4 linked regions of the Homo sapiens genome follow. The protein of the gene in region 4 purifies or fractionates together with the protein of the main gene of each other region. This does not show direct contact. Each region holds a gene or a part of one and is shown on either strand. Other genes may lie near its edges.

Evidence for each region.
Region 1: the proteins of DCTN5 (region 4) and SLC4A1AP fractionate together in Homo sapiens (co-fractionation; one large-scale study listed by BioGRID). This does not show direct contact.
Region 2: the proteins of DCTN5 (region 4) and ACBD3 fractionate together in Homo sapiens (co-fractionation; one large-scale study listed by BioGRID). This does not show direct contact.
Region 3: the proteins of DCTN5 (region 4) and SMC4 fractionate together in Homo sapiens (co-fractionation; one large-scale study listed by BioGRID). This does not show direct contact.

Annotation. Positions count from the first base shown.
Region 1 is NC_000002.12:27,690,726-27,695,486, reverse strand, and holds the end of SLC4A1AP (kanadaptin), read right to left. Parts: intron 1,803-4,761; coding exon 1,733-1,802; intron 854-1,732; coding exon 804-853; 3' UTR 518-803; downstream 1-517.
Region 2 is NC_000001.11:226,151,528-226,156,288, reverse strand, and holds part of ACBD3 (Golgi resident protein GCP60), read left to right. Parts: intron 1-1,311; exon of another isoform or gene 1,312-1,455; coding exon 1,456-1,642; exon of another isoform or gene 1,643-1,686; intron 1,687-3,669; coding exon 3,670-3,954; intron 3,955-4,761. UniProt on the Homo sapiens protein: Involved in the maintenance of Golgi structure by interacting with giantin, affecting protein transport between the endoplasmic reticulum and Golgi. Involved in hormone-induced steroid biosynthesis in testicular Leydig cells.
Region 3 is NC_000003.12:160,406,150-160,409,649, reverse strand, and holds part of SMC4 (structural maintenance of chromosomes protein 4), read right to left. Parts: intron 1-3,500. UniProt on the Homo sapiens protein: Central component of the condensin complex, a complex required for conversion of interphase chromatin into mitotic-like condense chromosomes.
Region 4 is NC_000016.10:23,657,767-23,662,527, forward strand, and holds part of DCTN5 (dynactin subunit 5), read left to right. Parts: intron 1-740; coding exon 741-859; intron 860-3,403; coding exon 3,404-3,515; intron 3,516-4,761. UniProt on the Homo sapiens protein: Part of the dynactin complex that activates the molecular motor dynein for ultra-processive transport along microtubules.

The sequences.
Region 1 (4,761 bases), on a different chromosome or scaffold from region 4:
CCCATCTCTATAAATATAAAAATTAGCCAGGCACAGTGGCATGTACCTGTAGTACCAGCTACTCAGGAGGCTGAGGCAGGAGAATCACTTGAGCCTGGGAAGTTGAGACTGCAGTAAGCTGTGATCATGCCACTGCAGTAAGCTGTGATCATGCCACTGCACTCACTCTGGGCAACAGAGTGAGACCCTGTCTCAGAAAAAAAGAAAAAAAAATGAGGTTCCAGTGCTTTGGGAGGCTGAGGCAGGAGGATCACTTGAGGCCAGGAGTTCAAGACAAGCCTGGGCAACATGGCAAGACTTCATCTCTCCAAAAAATTTAAATAAAATAATTAGCCAGGTGTGGTGGTGGTACATGCCTATAGTCCCAGGTACTTGGGAGGCTGAGGTGGGAGGATTGCTTGAGCCCAGGAGTTCAAGGCTACAGTGAGCTAGGATTGCACCACTGTACCCCAGCCTAGGTGACAGAGTAAGACCCTGTCTCTTAAAAAAAATAAAATAAAATAAAATATTAGGAACATTTTTGCCTTCTTATTTTAATAGGATCATGTCTCTCACTTTACAAATTCTCAAAACATATGGTTCCCTTTTTACATACATATATAAACACTTTTAAACATAAATATCAAATGCATGAGAATCATATGGGCAGATAAATTTAGGAAGCCAAGAACACAGAACGAAAAGCCAGTCACCAGATCTTACAAATAATCATCTAAACTTCTCTGGCCATTCAATTTGATACATTATCCCAAATATTCCATGTCACATGGTCCACAAGGTTTTCTTTTGGGATTCTGAAGCAATCAATAGCCATACTTGTCATTAAGATGGGTTCTGCCATCTCCACTTTGACCTAGATCAGAATATAAAAAAAGAAATACATTATTTACTCTTCCAAAGTCAGGAGAGAAAAGATATCCAGATATCAGTAGGCCAAAAAGTAAAATAGACAAAAAGGTTTATTCTACGGTAGAAATTTTACTTTTTGTATGAAATTTCAAAATACAGCCCTCTTTCATTTCTACCCTAACATTTGTTAGCATAGAAAAAGCAGACATCTCAAGTAACTAAATTATATTAGTTACTAATATATTAGAAATCTCAAGCTGTGATGAACATATGAGGAAGTAAGTATCTCATACATTGCTTTAAGGGTGTGTGTATGAGCATAAAACTGGTACAATCTCTATAGAATGCAATTTATAATATCTTTAAAATGTTTATACCTTTGATCCAGCAGGTTAACTTTTATGATTTTTTTTCTATAGATGCTCCTCTCTACTTAGCATTTTATATATAAGTATCCATAAGAAACTAACAACAATTGGTTGTCTTGTGAGGAAAACAACCGAGTAGCTGAGGCACAGCCAGAATTGTTTTCCTTTCTTTTGACTTGGTAAAACCCAGATAACATTACACCTGTAAACACTTCCGTATATATTCCTAGAAGACAAGGACTTTTTCCAAAAAACATAACTCAACATCATTCACACTTTAAAAAAATAAAAAATAATTTCTTAGTATCATCAAATATCCAGGTAGTGTTCAAAATTATCTGACTGGCTAATAATTTTTTTAAACAGTTGTTTGTTTGAATAAGGATCCAAACATGGTATACAAATTATCACTACATACTCTTGTAACTTTCTTATGTTGAACCTTAAATCTATATTACCTATTCAAAAATATAAATAAATGAACCTTAGAGGAAAAAAAAGTAAAAACAATCTACCTTCAGGTGGGACCCACACACAGTAGTCTGGGTCATCTTCAGGATATTTGGAAGAAAGTGTTGGTGGAAGCTAAAAAGAAAAGATGGATTGTTTTATTCACAAGAATTTCTCTCCAGAAACCTTACAACTGCAGAAGGGATTGGGGTCCTATTGTTAGCCTCCTTAAGCAGAATAAACATTAGTCAAGAATTTTGTATCCAACAAAACTAAGTTTCATGAATGAAAGAGAAATAAAGTCTTTTTCAGACAAGCACATGCTGAGGGAATTTGTCACTACCAGACCAGACCTACAAGAAATGCAAAAAGGAGTTCTAAATCTTAAAACAAAAGGTTGGCATGCACCAGAATAGAACCTCTTGAAAGCATAAAACTCACAGGGCCTATAAAACAATAATGTAATGAAGGAAGAAAAGTATCTAGGTAACAATCAACATGATGACTGTAACAGTACCTCACATCTCAATATTAACATTCAATGTAAATGGTCTAAATACTCCACTCAAAAAAAAAAAAAAAATCACAGGCTGGGCGCAGTGGCTCACACCTGTAATCCCAGCACTTGGGGAGGCTGAGGTGGGTGGATCACCTGAGGTCAGGAATTCAAGACCAGTCTGGCTAACGTTGCAAAATCTCTACTAAAAATACAAAAATTAGCCAAGTGTGGTGGTGTGTGCCTGTAGTCCCAGCTACTCGGGAGGCTGAGGCAGGAGAATCACTTGAACCCGGGAGGCAGAGGTTACAGTGAGCTGAGATCACACCACTGCACTCCAGCCTGAGCTACAGAGCGAGATTCCGTCTCAATAAATAAATAAATAAATAAATAAATCGCAAACCAAATATCTGCCATCTTCAAGAGACTCACTTAACATGTGAGGCTTCTTATAGACTAAAGGTAAAGGAGTGGAAAAAGATATTCCATACAAATGGAAGCCAAATGCAAGCAGCAGTAGCTTTTCTTATATCAAATAAAATAGAATTTAAAGCAACAACACTGAAAAAAAGACAAAGAAGGCTATTATATAATTATAAAAGGATCAACCCAACAAGAAGATATTACAATCCTAAATATATATGCACCTAAAACTGGAGCTCCCAGATTCATAAAACAACTACTACCAGACCTAACAAAAGAGAAAGACAGCAACACAATGATAGTGGAAGACTTCACACTCCACTGACAACAGCAAACAGATCATCAAGGCAGAAAGTCAACAAACACTGGACCTATACTATACTCCAGAACAAATCAACTAACATATTTACAGAACATCTACTCCAGAACTGCAGAATATACAATCTTCTCATCAGTGCCTGAAATATTCTCCAAGATAGACCATATGATAGACCACAAAACAAATCTCAAATTTAAAAAAATTGAAATCATATCAAGTATCTTCTCAGACCACAGTCGAATAAAACTAGAAACCAACTTGAAAAGGAACCTTCAAAACTATACAAATACATGGAAATTAAACAATCTGCTTCTAAATGATTTTTGGGTTAACAATGAAATCACTGGAAATTTAAAAATTCTTCAAAATAAATAATAGTGACACAAGTTATCAAAACCTCTGGGATACAGCAAAAGCAGTGCTAAGAGGAAAAATTTATAGTGTTAAATGCCTACATCAAGAAGTCTTGAGCCAGGCATGGTGACTCACGCCTATAACCCCAGCACTTTGAAAGGCCAAGGCAGGAGGATTGCTTGAGCTCAGGAGTTCAAGACCAGCCTGGATAACATAGCAAGACCTCATCTCTATTTAAAAAAGAGAGAGAGAGAGAGAGAGAAAAGTCTGAAAGATCACAAATTGACAACCTAATGTCACACCTCAAGGAACTAGAGGAACAAGAACAGACCAAATGAGGCTGGGCGCGGTGGCTCATACCTATAATCCCAGCACTTTGAGAGGCTGGGGTGGGCAGATCGCTTGAGTCCAGGAGTTCAAGACGAGCCTGGTCAACATGGTGAAATCCTGCTTCTAACAAAAGTACAAAAATTAGCTGGGCGTGGTGACACACGCCTGTAATCCCAGCTATTCAGGAGAGCTGAGGCAGGAAAATTGCTTGAACCCGGGAGGCAGAGGTTGCAGTGAGCTGAGATCGCACCACTGCACTCCCTGGGCAACAGAATGAGACTCTGTCTCAAAAAAAAAAAAAAAAAGAACAGATTAAACCCAAAGCTAGCATAAAAGAAATAACAAAGATCAGAGCAGAACTAAATGAAATTGAAACAAAAGAAACTGCAAAAGATCAATGAAAAAAAAGGTGGTTTTTGAAAAGATAAACTAAATTCATAGATCATTAGCTAGATTAGACAAGAAAAGAAGATTCTATATTAGTTCAATTAGAAAGGAAAATGGAGACATTACAAGCAACACCACAGAAATACAAAAGATCCTTTGAGACTACTATGAACACCTCTATGCACACAAACTAGAACATCTAGTAGAAATGGATAAATTCCTGGAAACACACAACCCTCCTAGACTGAATCAGGAAGAAACAGAAATCCTGACCAAACCAATAAAAAGCAGTGAGATTGAGTCAGTAATTAAAAAATATTACCACCAACAAAAAAAAGCCCAGGACCAGAAGGATTCACAGTCAGATTCTACCAGACATTCAAGGAAGAATTGGTACCAATCTTACTGAAAGTATTCCAAAAGAATGAGAAAGAAGGAATCCTCCCTAACTCATTCTATGAAGCTAATATCGCCCTGATACAAAAACTAGGAAAGGACATAACAAAAAAAAAGAAAACTAGAGCCCAATATCCCTGGTGAACACAGACGCAAAAATCCTCAATGAAAGACTAGTAAACTGAATCCAACAGCATATCAGAAAAATAATACACCCTATTCAATACACCATGATCAAGTGGGTTTCATCCCAGGGATGCTGGGATGGTTTAACATATGCAAGTCAATAAATATGATACATCACAGCAACAGAATTAAAAACAAAAACCATATGATCATCTCAATAGATGCAGAAAAAGCATTCAATAAAAGTCAGCATCCCAGGATCA
Region 2 (4,761 bases), on a different chromosome or scaffold from region 4:
ATAAAAAAGAATGTATACTATACAACCCATTTCTTTAAAGTTTTAAAATAGGCAAAGCAAATCTATAGTGTTATAAGTCAAATAGTTGTTACCCTTCAGGGCAGGTGCCCAGAAAGGGGTACCAGGGAATATTCTGGATGCAGATACTGTCTTGATCTGAGTATTAGTTACATGGATGTGTTTGATTTATGAAAATTGATCAAGCTGTGTAATTTATCATTTGTACACTTTCTACATGTATGTTGTAATTCAATTTATAGTTCCCCACCAAAGTTACCTAAGTAATACTCAGATATTTGAAGTAGTATCTGTCCATATTGATTTAGAAGAGGAATGTCCCAAAATAGTCCTTTGGATTTAAGATGTTTTTACTGCCATTTTGACTCAGAGGACATTTTGATTTTATATTTATGAATACACATTTCAATCATAACTATATAAACAGTGACAAATTTTCATTGAGAAAATATTTTTAACCTCAAATTGCATCCTGTAAGTCTGTTTGATTCTTAGGTCAGCATTTTACAACACGATTAACAATTTTCAATTTCATTGTGATCATAATTTTTCCCTGAAGTTTTAATTTATTGACTTTTTGGGGTCAATTATGTTAGAATAAATTGTCCATATTTGATTTTTTTATTGCTTTGGGGGCCCATACCAGATTTTGCCAATTATAGCTTCTGCCTTTGTGAATTTTCTTCTGTGACTATTCCCACCAAGTTTAATTTTTCTAATTCAAATTTTGTGTATTTAAAGTTTATCAAGATTTTTTTCTTCCATCAATTTCAAGAGCACATTACTGTGTTCAATTTTTGCCTTTAATAGTTTTATTTTGGGTTGATTATTTCTACTTTTTTTTTTTTTTTTTGAGATGGAGTTTCGCTTTTGTTGCTCAGGCTGGAATGCAATGGCACGATCTCAGGTCACTGCAACCTCCGCCTCCCGAGTTCAAGCGATTCTCCTGCCTCAGCCTCCCAAGTAGCTGGGATTACAGGCGTGTGCTGCCATGCCCAGCTAATTTTGTATTTTTAGTAGAGACGGGGTTTCACCATGTTGGTCAGGCTGGTCTTGAGCTCCTGACCTCAAATGATCCACCCACCTCCGCCTCTCAAAGTGCTGGGATTACAGGTGTGAGCCACTTTGGCTGGCCTTACTTTCATTTTTCCTGGTTAGTTTTTATGGTGATTCTCAGATCACAGAAATGTGAGCCTTAGTTGCAGGTTTTTGTCCACATTAATTTTTATTGATTTTTTATTATTTTTAGCTGTCAGTTTGATATTGTACTAATAATATTCATTATAGACAGGATAAAAACTGATAAAAATTTATTAGTAATTTCTTGAGCATAGCACTTTGGTAGGGCAAAAGCATGGTATCAGATGTACTCCAGGGCAGATGTCTTATTTGCTAGCCTTCCTGGTCAGTGTGTCTTCACTTTCTCTTGGTTTGTAGGCAGCATTACAGAAACAACAGGAAGTAGTAGTGGCTGGGTCTTCCTTGCCTACATCATCAAAAGTGAATGCAACTGTACCAAGTAATATGATGTCAGTTAATGGACAGGCCAAAACACACACTGACAGCTCCGAAAAAGAACTGGAACCAGAAGCTGCAGAAGAAGCCCTGGAGAATGGACCAAAAGGTAGGTTTTGCATATGTGTTTGTCCAGATGTCATAATTCCAAATCTGTGAAAGGCAAAAGTCATGAAGTCAGGTTATAATTAGCTTTTGAGAACAATTACATATTTGTGAGAGTTGAACATTTTTTTACTCTTTTTAGTCTGAATCTAATGCTCTGGTGACTCATAGACCAGTGTAGAAGAGCAAATCAGATGTCTTTGGACACTTTTAAGACAAAAGTTATGTTTTGTCATATATATATATATAAATTATCTATTGCTGCATAACAAATTACAGGCTGGGCGCAGTGGCTCATACCTGTAATCCCAGCACTCTGGGAGGCTGAGGCAGGAAGATCACTTGAGCCCAAGAGTTTGAGGCTGCAGTGAACTATGATTCCGCCTGCCTGGGTGACAAAGCAAGACTGTCTCTCAAAAAAAAAACAAACAAAAATTAATTACACCTAAATTTAGTAGCTTGAAATAACAATAAACATTTATTACTATCTTGTACAGCTTCAGTGGGTCAGGGTTTCAGGAGCAGTTTAGCTGAATGGCTCTGACTTAGGCTCCCTCATGAGATTGCAGTCAAGATGTTGATGCCAGGACTAGAAGATCTGCTTCCAAAATGGTTCCCTCACATGGCTGGCTTTTGGCTGGAAGCTCAATTCCTGGCCCCATGAAGCCTCTCCATAGGGCTTCTTGAGGGTCCTCAAAACAGTTACTGGCTTCCCCTAGCAGAAGTGGCAGTGTCTTTTATGCCTTGACTTTGGAACTCCCACCATATTCTGTTGGTCACACATACCAATCCTTATATATTGTGGGTGGTGACCTCACAAGTGCATGAAGACCCAGAGGTGAGAATCTCTGGGGACCATCTTGGAGGCTGGCTACCATAGAAATAGATATATTTTTGAGACTAATGTATCATGTTGCCTAGAAAATAACTGCATTTTCAAAGCTCTACTAGCTTTCCATGGGCAGCTCATTTGTTCATTCAGCAATTAGTTGAAGGTTTCCTGAGTGCTAGGAGTACAGTGGTGAGGCAAAATAACACACAGAAAATGTAGATTGTAGCTGTGATAAGTACGGTGATGGAGAGAGAGGTACATTATCTTTGAGAGAATGTAAAACAGGGAAGTGTGACCTAGTCAGAGAGGCCACCAGAGGCTTCCCAGAGGAAGGGACAATTGACCTGAGATATCTGAAGCAAGAGGAGTTAACTAAGTAAGGAGGAAGAGGAGAGCATTTCAGTGACAGTGGTCAGGGATGGTGGTATGGTTCATAAGAAATTTGGTTTCAGAGATCTTCCTTGTCTGTTTAGAACAAGTAATAATTGCTTCAGAAAAGGCTTTGAAATCCCTTGGTTTACTGCCCCCTTCCCTTTTTTTTTCTTATCAAGGGATTATACTAGCATCTTCAAATGAGAGAAAATATTTCAAAGGCTCTGTGACTAACTTTGAAAAACTTATTGCATAGTCAAGTGCACATAGGTACTGCTCAGTAACAAGACTTTACCCCTTTTTCTCAGTCCCTAGTGGTTCTAATCCTGTCCGAGTTTTTGTTTCTTTGAGCTCCTTTAGAATAGCCCCTAGAACTTTGGGATAGTTGGAGGTGAAGAATTTTTCAACAGACAGGCTGAAGTCAAAGTCCAGCTTTCTTTGTTCACATCCACAAGAGTAATTTATTCCTAAAGCCAGAATCTCTCTTCCTTGCTAGAATATTTCCCTCACTCCAGCTGGGGCCTTCCCAAGGTCATTCTTGAATCCCCATAGAGGGAGTGTTGAAAAAAATTCGTTTCTAAAATTGTGGGCTGCCATTGTTACTTGAAGAAGTACGATGACCTCTGAGTGCCTGCAACATTGTTAAACATAGTAATCTGGAGAGACTCCCATGGGGAGGCTTTTTTATTCCTCCAAGTCCTTGATCTAAGCTAGACCATATTGTACTTGGTGCCTGAGTACAACTGATCAGGTAGTGCTATGAAAATGTGGCTACCTGCAGGGTGAAGGCTCTTTTTCTTTAGCTTTTTAATACCTATTGCCTTTAGAATCTCTTCCAGTAATAGCAGCTCCATCCATGTGGACACGACCTCAGATCAAAGACTTCAAAGAGAAGATTCAGCAGGATGCAGATTCCGTGATTACAGTGGGCCGAGGAGAAGTGGTCACTGTTCGAGTACCCACCCATGAAGAAGGATCATATCTCTTTTGGGAATTTGCCACAGACAATTATGACATTGGGTTTGGGGTGTATTTTGAATGGACAGACTCTCCAAACACTGCTGTCAGCGTGCATGTCAGTGAGTCCAGCGATGACGACGAGGAGGAAGAAGGTAGAACCCTTGGTCCATATTCAGTAGCTGCTGGGTTGTGTGTTGGCAGAAATGGTACATAGTTCAGGTGTCACCCAGCCTTATGCTTCCTGACTAACACTTCATGGTTAGGGAACACTTTCTTCATTAGTGGGACCTTGGGCTGAAAATGTTATGAGGCCAGGCTCCTGTAGGGGACTGGGGCCTAAACCTGAATTTTTCTGAATGCCAGGAAAATCTATTTGGCAATTTGCTATTTTACTCCTTTCTGAATACTATTTTACTTCTAACCGTGTGTGTTGAAAAGCCAAATATGCAAGATTACTTCAAAAAAAATTTTTTTTTTTTTGAGACAGAGTCTCACTCTGTCACCCAGGCTGGAGTGCAGTGGCATGATCTCTGCTCACAGTAGTCTCGGCCTCTTAGGTTCAAGCGATTCTCCTGCCTCAGCCTCCTGAGTAGCTGGGATTACAGGCACGCACCACTGTGCCCGGCTAATTTTTTGTATTTTTAGTAGAGACGAGGTTTCACCATGTTGGTCAGGCTGGTCTCGAACTCCTGACCTTGTGATCCACCCGCCTCGGCCTCCCAAAGTGCTGGGATTACAGGCGTGAGCCACAGCACCCGACCCACTTTGAAAAATTTTAAAGGAGCAAGTAAGAATTCCTGTCAACCCTGGCATTTATTTAAATTTATATTGTTGATATTAGCATTTTAGGTCATTATTCTAAAATTTTTTATGTAAATACAGAAACTCACCAGAATAGTCCACTTAAAAAAATTTCAATTATTTTTCCATTTGGAAATCCCTATTTTGCTAGAGTGGAA
Region 3 (3,500 bases), on a different chromosome or scaffold from region 4:
AGAACTTACATTTGAGTCAAATGGCCATAATGTATTATTTAAGTATACATTTTTCAGATAGCTAAAAGTTGGGATTCAGTGTTTAACAGTTTACGCTGACAAAAATATTCCTTAAAAACATTGTATTTCTCCTGGCAAATTACTTACTGAAGAGATAGAGTACAGCTATTAAGAAACAGCTTAGCTTTGGGTAAATAACAATGGTTGCTCATTTTTGGTTGTTTGTTCCTCTCTCTCCAAATAAAATGAAAGATACAGCTATGATTTCCTCTAATAGAGTTGAGCATTTTTTTTTTTAAAGGCAGGATATTTACAAAGCAAAATAGTTACATCTCAACTCCTGTATAACATTCAGTCTTTTTTTTTTTTTTTTTTTTTTTTTTTGAGACGGAGTTTCGCTCTGTCGCCCAGGCTGGAGTGCAGTGGCGCGATCTCGACTCACTGCAAGCTCCGCCTCCCGGGTTCACGCCATTCTCCTGCCTCAGCCTCCTGTGTAGCTGGGACTACAGGCACGCGCCACCATGCCCGGCTAATTTTTGTATTTTTTAGTAGAGACGGGGTTTCACCGTGTTAGCCAGGATGGTCTCGATCTCCTGACCTCGTGATCCGCCCGTCTGGGCCTCCCAAAGTGCTGGGATTACAGCAGTCTTAAGATTATTATACCGTATTGCTTTTTTTTAAACCAGTTACCATATTATCAGATTAGCATTATTGAATCAACAGGCTATTAACAGGCCTTTACTTGTCCTTTGACTATTAAGACTACTGTGGTATTACAATGACAACCTGGGACTTTTCTTGTTGCTCTGTTCTTTGATGTCCTTTGCCTGCCCTACCACTTGCTACCATTTCCTTTCTTCCTTCTTTTTCCATTTGTGCCATCTCCTATGTAATCTGTAGATTGACAGTCTGTGCCTAAAGGATTCCTCCTTATTTCTTCAGAAAACTTACATAACTCATGTAAAATTACAGAATATAGTTTTAATTTAGGGCAATAAGCTCAATATATTTCAGAAATAATTTTAAAACATCAACCTGAATTTAAAGTCATATCAAGGTTCAATCCAAGTCACAAATAGTGACTGGCACAATCACAGACAAAAAATGTTTCAAGTCGCTACAACACTATTATCTGATGCTGACAAAGTTTCATATGTTCCCAGTGTTATCTCTATTTCTTGTATCTTAAAGCATATGAAACAAGGTCTTAAATGATTTTTCCCACCACTGTTATCTTAAGTTATGGAACACTTTCTTGAGTGGCAAACAAGGATATTATGATCCAGTTATACCACTCTTTGAGAATCAATTTACTGAAATACAGCTTAGAAATCTAAGAGGAATGAATAGGTATGATGCCCTTTATCCTTATTCAAATGTAATCCAAATTTTAGCAAGCATCAACTACAGAAAACTCAAACAGTACATAGCTATAACAAAGTTTTGTTGTCCTAGTAAGGCCTCAATTATTCTTCTCTTTATTTTTACTTGTAATTACTATGAAGGAGGGTTTCAGTGATTCTTACAGCAAATATGAGTGTTTGCATAAAAATTAAATGGCCTAAAATTACTGAGGTTTAAGTTTTTATCTTGATCATCTTTTTATTTTCTATATCTTTTATTATACTATACTATAAATTAGTGTTCTTTATCTTCCTCCAATACATTTTACTCTAATTTGATCTTTGTAAGCTACCAGAGGCCAAGGAACTAAACCACCAAGGTTAGTATCTTTCTAAAATAAAACAGAAAGAGTAACTTGTTAGTAGCTGGACTTCTTGATATCTATTTCTGGTTGGTTAGAGGTAGCTTCCTTGCTGCTCTCCACCACCTTCACCCTAGTTGTGGATATTGAATCAGACACCTTTGGAAAACTGAGGCATTACTGAAAAAACTAAAAATTTCTTTTGATATTATAGCATAGGCTCATTTCTACAGACTAAGAGACTAGAACCCAAGTAGTTTATGTGACAAGCTTAAGAGAAGTACATTGGAAAAAAGAACAGATGGCTAGGCAACAACTCAGACCTAGGTTAATTAAATCTCCAAATTACAAAATAATTAAAAAAAAAAAAAAGAACTTGGCTATTATTTATTTATTTAGAGACAAGGTCTGTCACCCAGGCTGGAGTGCAGTGGTACGATGTTGGCTCACTGCAACCTCTGCCTCCTGGGTTTAAGCAGTCCTCCCACCTCAGCCTCCTGAGTAGGTGGGACTATAGGGGTGTGTCACCATGCCCAGCTAATTTTTGTATTTTCTATAGAGACATAGTTTCACCATGTTGCCTAGGCTGGTCTCCAACTCCTGGGCTCAAGTGATCTGCCTGCCTCAGCCTTCCAAAGTGCTGGGATTATAGGCGTGAGCTAATGCACCCAGCCTGGTTCGTGTTTCAAACTTTAGATTTTGTAATATGAAGACAAAAGCATATGAAGTTGAAAACTTTGACAAAATTAAAGTTGTGCTAATAGTTGTAGCTTTTGAGGAGTTTACAAAAATATTCCTGAGGCAGCAATCATTAATACAACTTTTTAGTAAAAACATTAACCATTCTTCTACCCCTGAATGGAGCAAAAGCACCCCTAATTTATAAGTCATAGTTACCCAAGAAATGTTATACAGAGCTAATAAAACTCTACTTGTACAGACTTACAACGGGACCGAGGCTCCCAAAGTAGGTATATATAAAAGAAAATGTACGATTATAAAAAACACAATGGTCAATCACAACAAACTTTTTGAAGGCATGTATGTGTCTTTAAGGACAAGAAATAAGGTTTAGCCATCTTAATATTACTTACAGCATTTTAGCATAGTGCCTTAATAGGAATTCAATTGAATGGCCAATTAATGAAATTTTTAATGGATTTAAGTAATAAAAATGCCTACTTGAAAAATTTGCTAAGCGAATATATTAACACTGAAAAATTTTACTCTTAGGAACTTCTAAAAAATTTGGTTCTTTTTAATCTCAAAAATAAATGTTTATTTTTACTAAATTTAGATTACTTTTGCTGTTAATCACTATTACTGGCCAAATAGTCTACATGTTTTATTCCAAGTAATGATTTAGGTCTTGGATGTTGATACTACGATGCTGTTTCCAATTTCTCAGCCTCCCAAATCAGTTTTTAAGATAGATGTTATTCAGTAGGAGAGAAGGTAATAAAAATCACATTTTTACTTACCATCAAATGCTTTAAATTGCCAGTTAGGAGTCTGAGATTTTCATAAGCGACTTAAAAAAAACAATCCATAGAAACCATTGTCACTTTCCCTCAAAGTTTTAATTGGGCACTATTAGTTCTACCGTAGTCCAATCCCTGTTTCTTATTCCTAACAAGTGAGTTCCTAAGGTCCTTATCTATAAATTTAATTGAGTCAAACTGAATCTGTTAACTTGGAACATTCACCTTTGTATTATTTGGGAAGAAATGTTTTTTAAACAATTGTAAAGATCACATAAAAAGGTTCAGATTATCATGTGAACAAATTGGCTTTA
Region 4 (4,761 bases):
ATATTTTATTGACTCTATATCCTCTAGGAAAAATGTCTAAGTTTCTGTGCTTAGCATACATAATTCCTCATAATCTACTTGCATGTCCCTTGCTTACTTTTTCCAGTTACAACTCCAGCATATGCACTTTTTAACCCCATTCATTTATTCAGCAGACATTTTGAGGGTGCCTACTCTTTACCAAGTATAAGGCATTAATCCTCCCAGACTTATAGGGGAACAACTTCTGGGGAAGCCACGCCTTACACTTTGCAGTGTAGCACTTAGAATCTGAGTTCAGAGGTTGGGAGATGAACCAGAACTCCAGTGGGTCCACCTCTTGGAGCATGGAGTTGGAGGAGGTGTAGTGTTAAGAAAGAAGACAAAGGTAAAGCAGCCAGAACTCTTGGTAAGCGAGCAGCCAAGGCTTGGGGGGCATGAGGACTTACCTGAGCAAATCTAAAGAGACATATAAGCCAGATCTGCTATAGGTGTTCTCACTAAGTGCTCATTCAGTGAGTTCTATTCATGGGGGATTAAGGGCAAAGCTTGTGATGTACTAGGAACATCACTAACTGCAGTCACTGTCATGAGGGCAGTTCTCTTTTTACCTTACAATTTATTCCTTTTGGCGGAACATTTGAAACATTCTGTCAGAGTGGATTGTAACATAACTCAGAATCAGTATCTCGTTATCTACTCTTTTTTTGTTACGTCTTAGGCTATGTTGCTAATTTTTTAAAATTTGCTTCGTCTTACAGACCATTGTGATGAATGACTGTATTATCCGAGGGGATCTGGCAAATGTAAGAGTTGGACGTCATTGTGTTGTGAAAAGTCGTAGTGTCATAAGGCCACCATTCAAGAAGTTCAGCAAAGGGTATGTAATTTAATTACTTTGTTCAAGTCTTGGGCAAGAAGCTGCCACTGGTGGTGTGGTCCATGTGTTGAGTTGTGGTATAATGACTAGGTCTGTCCTGTTTGAAGCACTGAGTAAGAGTTCACCATAATGAACACAACTCTGCTGGTGGTTGTCTCAGTCTGGTTGATGATTGGTTGCTACAAACAGAATCCGCTTACACACTGGCAAAAGCAAAGGATTTCTGATCAAACAGACTGGCGTATATAATGGAACCTAAGAGGAGGAAAAGGAGCAAGCCAGGCCTCACAAGGGACCGGAACCTGGAATTGGACAGCTAGCCGGAATCAAGACTGTTTTGTCTACCTATCCCTCTCTGTATCTGAGACTGTATTTTTTCTTCTATACTGCCCTTCTCTCTGCATTTCTACTTGCCTTTTCTCTCTCACAGATACCTGCCCCATTTGTTCATGGAGCCTACCTTGCTGACTCAGCCTCTAATTTATATCATTTCTCCATTTAGGCTTCCAGCAGACACCAACTAGAGATCTTATGTGTTACTTCCAAACTCTTGAGAGAGAGAATCTGATTGACTCATCTTAAGTATCCCTGATCTGAACGACTTTGACCCAAAGGGCAGAGTCAAGTCAGGTCCACTGATCCTTCAGTGGGAATAAAGACTGTCCAAGAAAGGCCAGGGACAGAGCAGGCAAACTGACCACCATAGCTGATAATGGTGCTAAAGTATTCTCTTTGCCTCTTTGCTTCTCTCCTCCTTGACTAATTGCCCTCCTGGCACCCATCTGCATTTCATCCAATAAGTCAGCAAGCATTTATTGAGCACCTTCCTCATGCCTGCAGCTGGGTTGTAAGCTGAGAATATATAAAGATAGATAAAATAAAATTCCTGCCTCAAGGTTCCCAAAGTCTAGTTGTAGAAGCAATTAGCATAATCAGATAGCGACATATGACAGCTACTATATGATGTGATACACCTGTCACAGAGGTATGACCATGGTTAGGAAGGAACAGAGAAGGGAGCAATTAACTCAAACTAATGATAATACCCAGAAGTATATCATGCAGAAATAATCCCACATTTCCAATAATGATGTTGGATTCCAGGCTTTCCATGACATACAAGAACTGGATCGGAGAATCATTATAAAACATTCACATGATTAGCTTTGAAGGCTACTAGGGGAAAACCAGAAAACCTCCTGGTACCCTATTATGGTTTTATACAGTGTGACTGATACACTACTAGAAATGTTGATTAACAGCATTGTTGGGTTGGATATGGCACAGGAAAAGCACCAAGAGTGAACAAGGGGTTTATTGCTGAATGAAGGGATGTGTAAATAGGAATAGTACATGTGAGAAATGCTGAAAATATGAAAGTGTAAATAGCAAAACATGAATAGAAGCTAAATGTGGATTTTTTTCTACCTGCATGTCATACCAGAACCAGATAATACTATCGAACTTGGAATCTTAAATTTAAAATTAAAGAACTGTCAGTACTGCTACAGACTGTGATGAGATCAGGGAATGCATTGCTGCACAAGAGGTACAGACCAAAAATACTAGTGGTTAAGGAAGATTTAAACAAATTATAGGTTCGTAGAGGACAGGTATCATCTCTGAAAAAATATTCTGGACAGAATAGAACAGAATTGGAATTCTTCTATACTGCCCTTCTCTCTGCATTTCTACTTCCCTTTTCTCTAGTGAGCATCTAGCACTTTATATTCATTCCAGTCCAAATATTTTACATCCCAAGGTATAGAAATTACATATAAATGTGATCACAGAACCACTGTCAGTGACATTTGAGGAACCCTAGAGAACGGGATGGGAATGATGTCAGATATCTGGAGAAAGCCTGCTGACTCCTACTCAAAGTCAATTAAGTTTTTCCTAAATCCATGGACTAGGTAAGGTCTCCTTGTTATATATGCTCATAACTTGATATTGTGTTTCTGTAGCCCTTATCACAGTTGTCACTACTTACTATTTAATCTCATTTCTTCTCTTGATTGCAAGCTGCTCGTGGACAGTGTTCTCTCTCTTTTGTCATTATTATAGCCCTAATTTCTAGCATTGAGTCTGGCACATAGTAGTCACTCACTGAAGTCTGTGAATGAATAAATTTTTAGAATGCTGAATGTGGAAATTATAACTCATGAGCCTACTGTCAATCCCCTGGAACATTATAGGGCAGGTTACTAAAAATGTGATCTGTGAGCATTTTCAAAGGAAGTGGGAATGAACAAACGTTCATTGATTTTTATTTGGTACCTGCTCTTTTAGCTTTGAAGATCTTGCCCCTCCTGCCTTGGTTTTTCCTTTCATATTTCTTTGGTGTACTATTGCAATTTTGAACTAGTAATCATATTCATTTTCTTCAATATTGTATAATTTTTCTAGCCTGAGGTTTCTTTCCTTGCTGGGAACAGTCTTGCTAAGATGATAAAGTTCAAATTATGATCTGTAGTTCTATAAACCTTGACCCAAAGTACATCATCTTGACCTTTCTGTGTTCATCTTCTTTTCCTCTTCTAGTGTTGCATTCTTTCCTTTACATATTGGAGACCATGTCTTTATTGAGGAAGATTGTGTGGTCAACGCAGCACAGATTGGTTCCTATGTTCATGTTGGGAAGAACTGTGTGATTGTGAGTATGATGACTTGGCTGGCAAAGCAGCTTCACTTTCCCTTCAGCTCCCATCCCTCACTTCGGTGGGACCCTGTTTCTGTGACTAAGCAGGGTAGCAGTGGTTTCCAGTCTTCCCAGAGTTGGATTTTTCTTGACAGATATGGAATTTTTTCAGCTGGGTGCGGTGGCTCATGCCTGTAATCCCAGCTTTTTGGGAGGTTGAAGTGGGCAGATCACTTGAGGTCAGGAGTTTGAGACCAGTCTGGCCAACATGGCAAAACCCTGTCTCTACAAAAATACAAAAATTAGCTGGGCATGGTGGCGCATGCCTGTAGTCCCAGCTACTCGGGAGGCTGAGGCAGGAAAATCACTTGAACCCAGGAGGCGGAGGTTGCAATGAGCCAAGATTGCACCACTGCTTTCCAGTCTGGGCAACAAAACGAGACACTGTCTTATAAATAAATAAATAAATAAATAAATAAATAAATAAAAAGATTTGGAATATTTTCTAGACATTAATACGGGCAAGCGTTTATCAAGTCTCCTCTATATGATGTTAAACTCTTTCCTTTGATGATTTCATTTAATCCTTACAACCATTCAGATGTGTTAGGTGTTATCCCTATTTGCAGATGAGAAGACTGAGGACCTTAAATATTAAGGGATTTGGGGCCAGGTGTGGTGACTGTAGCCTATAATCCCAGCACTTTGCGAGGCCAAGGCAGGAGGATCCCTTGAGCCCAGGAGTTCAAGACCAGCCTGGGCAACAAAGCAAGACCCTTTCTCTTAAAAAAAAAAAAAACCCAAAAGTTAAGGGATTTGATAGGGCTAGAAAGCAGTAGACCTGGGATTTAAACCCAGGCAATATGATTATTAGCCATGCTGCTATATGGCCTACTTATTGCCTTACTTCACGGAGCTTACAGTCTAATGGGAGTAAGGAAATCTGAAGGGTGAGTTGAAACTGGGGGAAGACAGGCATTTCAGGAAAGAGATTCACATGCGTAAGGAAGGGTTCAAGTCATCAAAGGGCATTTACATGTAATTCAGGGTGCAAGCGGGCCCCTTGCTCAGCAGAATCTGTAGGACCCTGGTCCATTGGAGCCTAGGAATAGGTTGATTTAACCCAACCAAGGCTTAACAAGGTTGGATTTCCTGTGATTTCTTAGATGATGAGCTTGATTTCAGTTGGGATTTATGAGAACCATGTTTAGGGAAAGTGTTTTCTGCATTTTAGATTTGTACTCCAGACTAGATTCTAGGA